2 separate regions of the Homo sapiens genome follow, and region 1 is linked to region 2. Evidence: fine-mapped expression QTL. A gene starts in region 2. The other region holds a variant in brackets. All regions are shown on one strand. Distances are from middle to middle. Region 1 has its middle 56 kb from the start of DNAH14. Region 2 holds the start of DNAH14 (dynein axonemal heavy chain 14).

Evidence for each region. PIP is the estimated chance that this variant, and not a neighbour inherited with it, causes the effect. A credible set is the group of variants that fine-mapping cannot tell apart.
Region 1: its variant is the best candidate, but not a certain one, in a credible set for the expression of DNAH14 in thyroid (GTEx, PIP 0.59).

Annotation. Positions count from the first base shown.
Region 1 is chr1:224,872,087-224,875,011 of GRCh38, forward strand. No RefSeq gene overlaps it. Among named protein-coding and RNA genes, the nearest start is that of DNAH14, 56 kb to the right of the region's middle. The variant CT/C (reference allele first, on the strand shown) is at 1,396.
Region 2 is chr1:224,927,853-224,930,777 of GRCh38, forward strand. It overlaps DNAH14 (dynein axonemal heavy chain 14), which reads left to right and starts at 1,823. Exons shown (of 86, transcript NM_001367479.1): 1 at 1,823-1,983. It overlaps LOC105373109 (a long non-coding RNA gene), which reads right to left and starts at 1,719. Exons shown (of 3, transcript XR_949207.2): 1 at 1,658-1,719. RefSeq lists a silencer at 2,058-2,157.

The DNA of each region.
Region 1 (2,925 bases), 56 kb before region 2:
TCTGAGTGAGGGGAAGCTATTGGAAGGTTTAAGGTAGACCAGTGATATCATCAGACTTATGTTTTAAAAGCATTACTTTGTCAGAGCAGATGGATGGAATACAGGTTGATTGCTGTTTTTATTATTATTACTAGTATTCTTTTGTACATCTTTCTTCTCTGGGAGAACCAAGTGTTTTTCTTTCCCTCAGAACAGGTATAAAAATGTGAATAAATCCCCCCGAGGTGCTGTCATATGGTAGAGAGCAGTATTTTGGGGCTGTCTTATTTTCTTATAAAGCTAACTTCTCTTCAGAGCCTATTATAATTTTTTAGTCTCAGTTGAGGGACTTGAGAACAATATATTTAGATTATTTTCTCAAAGAGCTATTGGTACAGATTTTAAACAACAATCAGTGTGTTCAGTAAAATCACTCATGGCCTTATTAGTCATGCAGCACTTGTGGATTGGTCCAGAAAACAGAATTTAGAGGATGGGTGCATATGTATATGTGCATGCTTGTTTATGTGCATAAGTGTGCATGTGTGTGCAGATGCACAGGTACGTGTATGTGTATTACAGTCCTGGTGTAGGTATGTGAGTGAATGTGTTTCTATGTGCACGTGTATGGCACATGCACGTGTGGCATATGCATGTGTGCGCATACATACATGTGTGCGTATGGATGACAGAGTGTATTCTCTATGTGTGCACATATGTGTGCTTTATGTGCATTGTATGGCTTGGGTGTTGCATATTTATAAGCATGTGCAGTGTTCATGGGCCTCTGTTTGATGCAAAACTAAGAAGTGGCTCGTCACCATCTCTGTCCTTGATATATTTTCAATCCAGTTGGGGAGATTCAATATAGAAGCAGCTGTGAAATAGCACTGCCATCAATAGGTCATCTTTTATTGGACGTTTTCTACAAAGTGTGTCATTATTCATGAGAGTATGCTGCAATAAAATATGGTCTTTGTTTTCTTTATCCACAAAGTTAAAAGGTGGAATCGAATAAGTTTTAGGTTCCCTCCTGTCTAAAGTATGATTTAAACACTCATTTTCCAGTATTACAACCATCATTTAAAAGTCTTTGAGAAAAGCAGCAACTGTAAAAAATGTTGCAGTGTTGAGCACCCTGGCCAGGCTTCTGCAGTTTGGAGCATTTTCTCCAGCTCTGGGGCTGCAGAGCTGAGGTAGGGTGGCTCCACCTCCTTCTCCAGAGAAGTGACTAGAGCACCTTGAAAGGCTAGGGAAAGGCTAGAGGCTTTAGGGACTCATCCAGCTACTTCTGCCCAGGTCCACTTGTCACCAGGCTTGATGAGTGTGAGTAACCCATCACCTTCACGCATTGACCTCCCTGCATCACTCATTCATTACTCATTCATTTATTCTCTTTCCTTTCTCTTCTCCCTC[CT/C]TGTCTCCTCTCCTATTCACTCCCTCTCCTTTCACCAACTCTCCCCTCCTCTCCTTCACTGAGGAGGCAGGCAAGATCAGACACCCAGCTGGGGGCTGGGCATAAAGAAACATGCATCTGACCTTTTCTACATGACAACTGTGGAAGTCTGCTGCTAAATCTTTCATATGATCTGCAATTCTTTTTTCCCACCTACAGATTACTCCACGCTTCCTAGCTCTTGTCATAAATCCACAGATGCCTCATTTCACAATAAGGAAAACTGAGCCAAGACGGGTTTTAGTGACTCATTTAAAATCTCACTGCTGCTTATGGCACCTCTGATTATCATCCCCAAATAAAGTTTAAAAGCCACCACATCATGGGCTATTTTAAAAGATAAACTTAGGCACATTAAAACTTTAAAGAGTATATTTGAGTAGACAGGAATTCATGAATCAATAACACTGGACCACCCATGGTTCAGCACTCCACTGTGGGGGACCCGGGAGGCAGAGAGAGGAAAATTTTATAAGGTGTTTGGGGAAGTAAAAAATATTTACTTTTATATAAAAAAAAATTTGGCTAAAGTGGAAAGTTCCTAGTTAGAGGTTAACTGGTGGTTTCTGATTGGTTAAGCTTAAGTTTCATTTTTCTGTTTATATTGAGCTTAGGTTTGCTTTTGCAGGAATCTGAGGCACAAGAGTCTTCTCAGCCTAATGGACTCACAATTTTTTTTTCTTTTTAACAGCTACAGTCCATTTACAGGTTAATCTTTAGGTGAACTCTGGAGCTGAGTTCAAAGTCTTCCTTGTAATCCTGGGAAAGAAGAAATGAGAGGCCAGACCTGGCAATTTCTGAGCCATGGTCAGAGAGCAAAATATGAGGATCATGTTGACTGTAGACCTAATGCATTTTTATTTTAAAATCCTTTTTCTTAACGAATCCAGACCATTGAAATCTATCTGTAATGGGTTTGCAATTCTACTGGATTTCCTACCCTCACTCTTTTAAATATTGATTTGATATTGCCTTTAAAAGTTATATTTGGAGCTTGGAGGATTTTAGACTTCTAATATAATATTCAGTAAAAATTGAAATATGGAGGAGATGTGATGAAATAGCTGGTGACAGCAACTTCCACAGTGTTCAGTTCATTTTAGAAACAATATGAATGATTATTAAATGAATATGTTGCTCTGTGTATATACATTTATATATAAAGTCCCATCAAAAGTGGGAAAATGACATTTATAATAGCAATATTAAATGTAACTATTAAATATAAATATTGAGTCAAATTAACAACTAGTAGGGTTTTCATTTTTCTTTTGCAGTGATTTTTCTTTTGACATGAATGCCTGAATGGTTTCTGCCCTAAGCTGAATAAAGGGCAAGGCTTCCCCTCTGGCTGCCGGGCTGGGTGACCAGACCGCACACTTCAGTGCACCTGTGAAAAGCAGATTATGAGCCGTGTTAGTCTTGCGGCGTCTGTTCTGGAGAAGGCTGTATTAGTCTTAAGGCCCCGAGAAGGCTGTGTTAATATTAAG
Region 2 (2,925 bases):
GGAAGCCATCATCATCAGCAAACTAACACAGGAATAGAAAGCCAAACACTGCACGTTCTCACTCGTAAGTGGGAGTTGAACAGTGAGAACACATGGACACAGGGAGGGGAACAACACACACCAGGGCCTGTCAGGGATTGGGAAGTAAGGAGAGGGAGAACATTAGGACAGATAGCTAATGCATGCGGGACTTAAAACTTAGATGATGGGTTGATAGGTGCAGCAAACCACCATGGCACATGTATACCTATGTAACAAACCTACACGTTCGGCACTTGTATCCCAGAACTTAAAGTAAAATTAAAAAAAAAGTTTAATACACTTTTGCCAATACAATTTTAAAGACATTTTTATGTTTTTCAATTTTTTTTTGTCAAAACTGTGAATCTGTGGATTTAGCTCATTTAATTTATGGAAAATGTCTGCTGTATAATCAGCATTGTCAAATCAATTAGCCAAATCAGGCTGACTTTTTATCATAAAATCTGACTTCATTTTTCCATTGAAATAATTTCATTAAAAAACATTTAAAAAATGATTACAGAAAGCACTGGGAAAGAACGTATAAATGCATTTAAAAAAATAGATTACTAAAACCAATCAAGTTAAGATGAAATACTATAGATATACTTTATTCACTTTTATAGTAAGTTATACAAAAAAGAATAAGCCTATATAAGGTAAGGGAGTGGGAAATGTCAAGGATAACGCCAGTGATTTTTGGTTTAAGCAAATAGAATTGCTATTTACTGAGATAAGGAACACTGGATGTGAACTCAGGCGGCCCTTCATAGTCTGTCTTTTTTGTTGATCTTATTTTGTTTTAGACAGTCTATTGACTGATTTTTTTTAAGTTACGACTCTCAACTTTTTGGCCAATTTTATTCAAATGGAAATGATTATTGGCATATAAAAACATTATTTCCAAAATGTTTTTCCTTTTTAAAGTGACATATTTCCTTACCCCCAATACCTAAACCCTCTTACCAAACAGCGTCTCAAAGACTCAAATTCATACATAGATTTTACTGTAATATGCCGAATGGTTATATATTTAAACTTATTAAATATTGTAACAAAAATGGGAAGCTGATTTTTAAAATATTAAACACAGCCTTAGATGTAATAGGCCCCAACAAATCTCTACATTTTTTTTTCCTGTGGATCCCACCAAGAAATATGAAGTCACCCAGGTATTTTTTGTGCCTAGCTCAGTGCCTGGCACATAGTAAGTGCTCAATAAATATTGTAGTTGTTGCGTGAGTGAAATATAGAACATTAACTTACTAAATTTTTATAAGACCTTTAAAAAGAAATGGGGTATTTTAATATATATGTAATTATTTTTACCTTAGAATTGTATACCTCTTAGACCTGTTTTATTACATATATACGATCCTTCACTAGTAAGTGAGGCTTTTTAATGAAAATTCACGCCCACGAGTTGTGAAAATCTTAAGTGTAAGTCACCTCTTTCAGAGGTCTCAGAGCCACCTGTTCTGCAAAGGCACACATTTCTCCCGCCTTTAGGCCATACCTAGGTAGGCATGCAGGTGGTAGAAAGGTCAGACTAGAGTCTTTAACTTGGGCACCATATCTGATCTGCCTTTAGGGCACACTTTTGGGCCACACTCTGCACCCCCAACACCCCCCTTACCCCCAGCACCGTCGGTGTCACATCGGGGGCCGCCGCGTACCCGCGGTGGAATCTCGCAAGAGCCAGGGCCCCTCCTCACCTGCCCGGCACCCAGGATCCCTTGCGCCGCGTTCGGGACCCCACCCCCATTGTGGCCTCTTCGCCAGGGCGCAGGCGTGGCTCTTGGTCAGGCGGTTACGGCCAGGAGGCGTCGGAGCCTGGCGTGGTAGGGCTGTGCTGCGCGGTCCTTCCCATTCACCCTAGTCTGGCGCTCGCCGGCGTGGGCGGGCCGGACCTTCGCCGCTTCCAGGAAGGGCCACAACGGCCGTCGGACCACGGCGCGGCGGGTAAGGTCGTCAGCGTCTTCCTGTCAGCGGTCGGCAGAGCCTCGGCGGGCGGGCGGCGCGTGGGGCAGCCGGTGTCGCACTGGGAGGGCTGCGTGGGCGCGGAGGGCCTGGGCGCTCCCCACCCAGCTGCTGTGGGAGCGCCTCCGAGTCCCCGCGCGGAACCCTCACCAGGCAGATGCTGGCGCATCCACCAGGCGCCGGCGCCGCCACGCCGGTAGCCCCGACCGCAGGAGCTCTCAACGCGAGGTTCTTCTTAGTTGCTCTCCCTCAGGCAGGCCGCGTTCCCTTCTAGTCCTATATTTCTGAAGTTTTTTAAAATTTTCCATTTATAAACGAATAATGAGCTATTTGAAAAACCTTGCCATCACTTATTGTATAATATATACATATACACTCTCAACACAAATATATATGGATTATTATAAGTGATTTTGTATGTAGAGATATAACTTTTCTAAGAAGTTGATGAATTACATTAGGGACACTAATGGATATTTTACTTGCGTTTGTGGGATAGACTACGCTAGGAAATATATGTACATATACAGTCATGTGCCTCATAACAGCGGTAGTCCCATAAGATTATAATGGAGCTGAAAAATTCCTGTCGCCTAGTGATGTCATAGTCAAGGCATTATGTGTTTGTGGTGATGCTATTGTAAACTGTGCTGCCAGTCATAAAAGAGTAGCACATACAATTATGTACAGTACATAGTACTTGATAATAACAGATGAGTATGTTACTTGCTTATGTATTTACTATACCATACTTTTTTTTTTGAGACGGAGCCTCGCTCTGTCGCCCAGGCTGGAGTGCAGTGGCGCGACCTGGGCTCACTGCAAGCTCCGCCTCCCGGGTTCACGCCATTCTCCTGCCTCAGCCTCCGGAGTAGCTGGGACTACAGGCGTCCTCCACCATGCCCGGCTAATTTTTTTGTATTT